2 separate regions of the Homo sapiens genome follow, and region 2 is linked to region 1. The links come from fine-mapping of genetic effects on plasma protein levels. A gene starts in region 1. The other region holds a variant in brackets. All regions are shown on one strand. Distances are between the middles of the regions. Region 1 holds the start of NISCH (nischarin). Region 2 overlaps NISCH (nischarin).

Region 1 (2,902 bases):
GGAGGGGCGCAGTCCAGAATAGGGTGAGCTTTTTGAAGATGGCCCTCTGGCTGAATGTGCCCATAGCTGATGGCCAGTCAGCCATCAGCTTAGAGACCTCACCCGCCTCCTGCACCTAGTTTCCCCCTCCTCTCTGCAGCATGGAGCTGAAGCCTCCTCCAGCCCTGAGGAGCAGCCATTTCTCCAGGCTGGCCTGTTGCTTCAAGATCCACCCCTCTCCTCTTCCCATCCTGCCTGATTCCTTCCCCTTGCCTTCAGGAAAGGAGAAAAGAGCCAGAAGAATGGCCCTCAGAGCGGAAGGTTAGGATGAGGGCCAGGGAGGGGAGGTGCAGGCAGGCCCAAGGCCCCCACCCACTCCCTACCCTGCGGGAACAAAGGGGAGGAGGCAGGGAGGTGCTCTATGCCTAGTCCAGGGCCGGTTTTTGCCAGGCAGCCCACCAGGCTCACAGGCCTGGCATCCAACCCCGTCAAAGTCGGGAACTACCCGCTATTTGTCCTCTGTCTCCCCCATAGCTTAGAAGTGTGTGTGGGCAGCTTGTTGCCCCATCTCGCTCCCACAGCCCAAAGTCACGAAGATTCCTAAGGCTTATAGGGCCTGCGCTTTAGCACTGAGACCACCCCCATTTCTCCATAGATGGGCTCCACCCCTCCTCCGGTCTTGTCTCCGCCCGACCCCCAAGGCATCTGCTCCCCAGGTCTCTCCTGCACTTCTCAGAGAAAATCTCAACCACCACCTCAGGCTCCCCAGATCAGGGTCCTGACGCCTTCTCTTTCTTCAAGGCCTGCGAAGCCTGACCCTTTTCCCTGATTCCATCCATCAGAGACCCTCTCCCCATCGCCTTCCTCCTGGACCCCTGTAACGGTCTTCCAGGCCGGGGCCCCTCCAGTCCTAGAGGATCTAGAGGGGTTCCGCCTCATCTAGACACCCCCCTCCCCAAGCCCCCTTTATCCCCAGATGCCGCCCCCAACCCGAGCCTCCCTTTCTGATCGCGTACCCTTTTCCAAACCGCCTCCCCGGGCCCCGAGCAACCCTTCTCCCGGACCTGCGGGGCCCAGATCCCTTTCCTAGATCCCCCGTCCCAGCCCCCTCCTCGCAATCGCAGACCCTTCTACCCGCTCCTCGGGGCTGCAGATCCCGGACCCCTCCCCAAGCCCCCGAGTCGGACTCCCGGTTCCAGCCACCACCCCCGCTTCGGGTGCCCGCGCCCCCAACACACCGTATAAGTGTCCACAAGCTCCGAGCCCACGACGCGCGCTTCCTTGGCCGGCTCGGCTTCCCGCTCGGGCCCGAAGGTGCGCGCGGTCGCCATGTTCGGGTCTCCGCCGCCACCGCCGCCCGGCGCAGACTAGCAGCAGCAGGGGGCGGGGTCAACGTCCCACCGCCCCCCGGCCCCCGCCGCCCGTCGCCCCCGCCGCGCGCTGCGCCGCCATCTTGGCCCCGCCTTCTTCCTGCGCCCTCGCCCCGCCCCCGCGCGTGACTGACAGGGGCCACTCAGGGCGCGCGTGCGAGGTGCTCGCTTGCGTAATCTACCTGCGTGGCGCCGCCGGCGGTACCCTGCACAGCCTGCTAGAAACTGAGACCCCGGGTGGTGACAGCTCTGGGCATCGCCCCTGGGTCCTCGGGAAGAGGGGACAGAAGGTCCCGAGTCTCCCAGGCCACACGAAGCAAGTCACTGCTCTTCCTGGCCTCAGTTTACTCCTCCTGATAAAGGAGGCCATAATAGTGCCTCACCTGGCTGTTGGGCTCTTTCTCTTTAGGGCAAGGCAGGTTGGAGGGGAAAATAGGACCTGTGCTTACCGCCGGAGCAGGGCGAGAGTGATTCTGGGCCAGTTCTGAACCTCTCTGAGATTCGGAGATCTCTTGTCAGTGGGGCTTCTGGACAACTGAGTGGGTTGATTGATGCGCGGCCCAGCACGCAGTAGTGCTCGAGGCAGGGAGCGTGTTTATCAAGAGGGATAAACTTGATACGAACTCTGTACGAAGGAAGGTGTAGGTGGATGGAGGGGTGTGTGCTGCCACTGAGCACAAGAACCCCACGGGGTGGCCTGCCAAAGTTCAAAACGAGGGAGACAGGTTGATCTGGACCCAGGAACTACAGTGCTGAATCCTAAACCGGGGAAAGATGAGACCTAGAAGAGGGAGGTGGTAACCTAATTGGAGGGTGAGGAGGGAAAGAGCCTGCCACAGATGGGGCATCTATAGGGGTGCTGTTGAATAACTGAGAGCAGCTGACTTAAGCCCGAAGTGGGTACTTCTCCCTGGGCAGATGGGAGGTCTGGGACAGGCTCCTCTGGCAGAAGGGCTCCTGGCCACCCTGTCCTAAGGTGGGTCAGTCACTTCCTCCTTCACCAGTTCCACAGCATCTTACTATGAGCTTGGCATTCGAGGCTTCTCTTGGCAGGGCCCTGCACTCCTAGCCTCTCCTTGCACATTGCACCCCCATTCCAGAGAGGTTTAGTTAAAGGCGGGGGTTACCAAGTCAGTCAGATCTTGGGCAAGTCACCACTCCTCCAGAGCCTCAGTTTCCTTATCTGGAAAGTGGAGGTCATGGCAACCCGCCAACCTGGTTGGATGGGAGCCTGAGCTGTTGTGTTGCACCTTGCCTGGGGCCCACGACTTTGTAGCTCCTGTCCTGCACTGGGCTTATGTTTTCATTCATTCCAGAAACCTTTTCAGAGAGTCCCTTTGGGGAGTGTGGGGGACAGGAGGGAAAGAAACCTGGTCCTTGTAGCCGTTCGTCTGCTCCCTGCCCTGGGCAGAGGACGTGGGGACTCAGGCCAGCCTGAGATCACTGGGACCAGAGGAGGGGCTGGAGGATACTACACGCAGGGGTGGGCTGGGCTGGGCTGGGCTGGGCCAGGAATGCAGCGGGGCAGGGCTATTTAAGTCAAGGGCCGGCTG
Region 2 (2,902 bases), 21 kb before region 1:
GCAAGTCACTCTGACAGTTATTTTAGGAAGGGAAGTCCCTCTTCTCTGCCGCACATGCCACAGCACAGTGGCACCCCTGCAGACAGTTGGGGTGGGCGTTGAAAACATGGCTGTCCACCTTCAGGACGGAGGTGCATCATCATGCCTGGTTTGTATTTACTCATGCTTCCTAATTCTTTGGAACTAGAGCAACAATCACTCAGTGCATTGCTGGGATCCTAAAGCGAAGACAGCAACCCCTGCCCTTACAACCCCTGGCCAATTCCCAAGGCTGCGTCAGTCTCCTGAAATCTCAGGGCGGGGCCTTGGGAGTGTGTGCGGGCAGCACTGGTCTCCAAAGGCACTACCTGCAGATTGTCCACAACCAGCAATCCATTGTGACTCAGGTCCAGGAACTCAATCTTTGGGATCAGTTTCTTGTGAAAGAAAAGAACACCCGATGTTACTGTAGGGGGCTGGACCCCAAACACGGTCCCCGACACAGTGGACGGGCACCCCAGGACGCTTCCTCCCGACCATGGACTCCCACGGGCCGTCCCTGCAGGACCACTGGTGGGACATCTCCCGCTGCCCAGCCAGTAGCACATCCAAAGGCACACACAGGGCCCCCAGTGCTGGGCACTACTCAGTTTTCATGGAACACTTGGCTTGTGAAAATGACACACAGCAAGGTCCCAGACAGAGAAGAGAGTCTGTTCTTCTTCAACCCTGCCCACACTCCCTGAGCAGCGCAAACACGGGAACGACACTCTTACTGCCCAAATGCCCTCTGGGTGTCATTCTTTCATGGGCACATCTGTCATCTAAGGAGTGATTTTTCTGCTCCACTCTTTGGAGCAAATGTCATCATTTAGTGTGTTATAGTTTACCAAATTTACATGAAATTATTATGTTTTATTTGGTTCTAAGTACTACCTCACCAATTTTAAATGATCCCATTTTTTTTTCTTCTTTTGAGACGGAGTCTCACTCTGTCGCCCAGGCTGGAATGCAGTGGCCCTATCTCAGCTCACTGCAACATCCGCCTCCCGGGTTCAAGCGATTCTCCTGCCTAAGCCTCCCAAAGTAGCTGGGATTACAGGTGTGCACCACCACACCCAGCTAATTTTTGTATTTTTAGTAGAGATGGGGTTTCACCACATTGGTCAGGCTGGTCTCGAACTCCTGACCTCAAGTGATCCTCCCGCCTCGGCCTCCCAAAGTGCTGGGATTACAGGTGTGACCCACCACGCCCAGCCCCCATTTTGTAATTAACTTAAAATGGCAGGCAATGCACAGAGCACTAGATATAGGTTTTCCGTGGTCCTTCCTAAAAAAGCTGAGTTAAATACTCAAACTCAGGGTTTGGTGGGGCCAGAGAAACCCCTGGCACCTGCTGCTGAGAGCATACCACAGACTCGTCGATCTCGGAGA[C/T]GCTGTTGTGGCTCAGGTCAAGCGTGGTCAATGCCTGCCAAGTGGGGATGACGGCAGTCACAGGGCCTTCTAGGGTTGTGCCTTCAGGCTCCCACTCATCAAATTCTGAGGCTTCAGGAACAAGGACTTCCTGCATAAAAACATCTGTGTGGAGCACCACACTCGGGCCCTCACGCAACACTCACTGGGAACACAGTCGTTGCAGAATTTAAGGAAGGGCTGGAGCATATTTAGCATGTGGAAGTAAACTTGCATTAAAGCATGCCTTTGGTTCCTATGTCTTTAAACGATTGTGAAATCGTTCAAAGCTGAACAATTTACCACATAACAGCCACTTAGAATTAAGTCCTGGCCCTGCTTTAGGAGCAATGCTTTTCAAGCCCAAAGGGCCTTTGCCCTGGTGACCTGGTGATGCCTTTTCTAGCCTTTTCTCTTTTTTGAGATGGAGTCTCGCTCTGTCACCCAGGCTGGAGTGCAGTGGCGCAATCTCAGTTCACTGCCACCTCTGCCTCGCAGGCTCAAGCCATCCTTCTGTCTTAGCCTCCCCAGTAGCTGGGACTAGAGGTGTGTACCACCATGCCTGGCTAATTTTTGCATTTTTAATAGAGATGGGGGCTTCACCATGTTGGCAAGGCTGGTCTCAAACTCCTGACTTCAGGTGATCCACCCACCTCAGCCTCCCAAAGTGCTGGGATTACAGACGTGAGCCACAGCGCCTAGCCGTTTTTTCTTTGAGACACAGTCTCACTCTGTCACCCAGGCTGGAGTACAGTGGCGCCATCATGGCTCACTGCAGCCTCAAACTCGCAGGCACAAGCAAATCCTCCCATCTCAGCCTCTTGAGTAGCTGGGACTACAGGCGTACACCACCTTGCCCAGCTAATTAAAAAATTTTTTTCTGTAGAAACGAGGTCTCCCTACATAGCCCAGACTGGTCTCAAACTCCTGGGCTCAAGTGATCCTCCTGCCTTGGCCTCCCAAAGTGCTGGGATTATAGGTGCAAGCCACTGCTACTGGCCAGCCAACCGTCTTTTCTAGCTTCTCAGAGGCTGAAGGTGAGAATTCAGTTTCCAGGCAGCTGTGCTTTCCAAGCTGATGATGTGGTCCTCACTGTGGACACCAGGCCTTTAAAACCATTATTTCACAGGAATAAAGTCAGACAATGCTAAGATAAGGGGAGTAGCACAAAGCCCAGAGACCATCAAAATGGAGAAAGGCAGGCCTATTTGTTTTGACAAGACCTTTCTTCTCACAATGGGTCGCCCTGGGCTCCTTCAGCAAGACAGTGAGAAGTGCTCGGAGAGGGACCAGGTGGCCCAACACACTCTCTGCAAGCCTCAAGAGGAAAATTTTTCACCAAATCCAATTTTTTTTTTTTTTTTTTAAGAGACAAGGTCTCCCTATGTTGCCCAGGTTGGTCTCCAACTCCTAGGCTCAAGGAATCCTCCTGCCTTGGCCTCCCAAAATGCCGGGATTACAGGCATGAGCC

The links. PIP is the chance, under the fine-mapping model, that this variant and not a neighbour inherited with it causes the effect. Sun 2018 read protein levels with aptamers (SomaScan).
Region 2: its variant is fine-mapped to the plasma level of the NISCH protein (Sun 2018, PIP 0.95). The variant lies in the coding sequence of NISCH. If it changes the protein, the assay may bind it differently, which can mimic a change of level.

Annotation. Positions count from the first base shown.
Region 1 is chr3:52,454,050-52,456,951 of GRCh38, reverse strand. NISCH (nischarin) reads right to left here and starts at 1,348. Exons shown (of 21, transcript NM_007184.4): 1 at 1,218-1,348. The coding sequence starts at 1,310. RefSeq lists an enhancer at 1-369 and a silencer at 1,194-1,423.
Region 2 is chr3:52,475,088-52,477,989 of GRCh38, reverse strand. It overlaps NISCH (nischarin), which reads right to left. Exons shown (of 21, transcript NM_007184.4): 8 at 1,391-1,543; 9 at 348-416. Among named protein-coding and RNA genes, the nearest start is that of STAB1, 19 kb to the left of the region's middle. The variant C/T (reference allele first, on the strand shown) is at 1,414.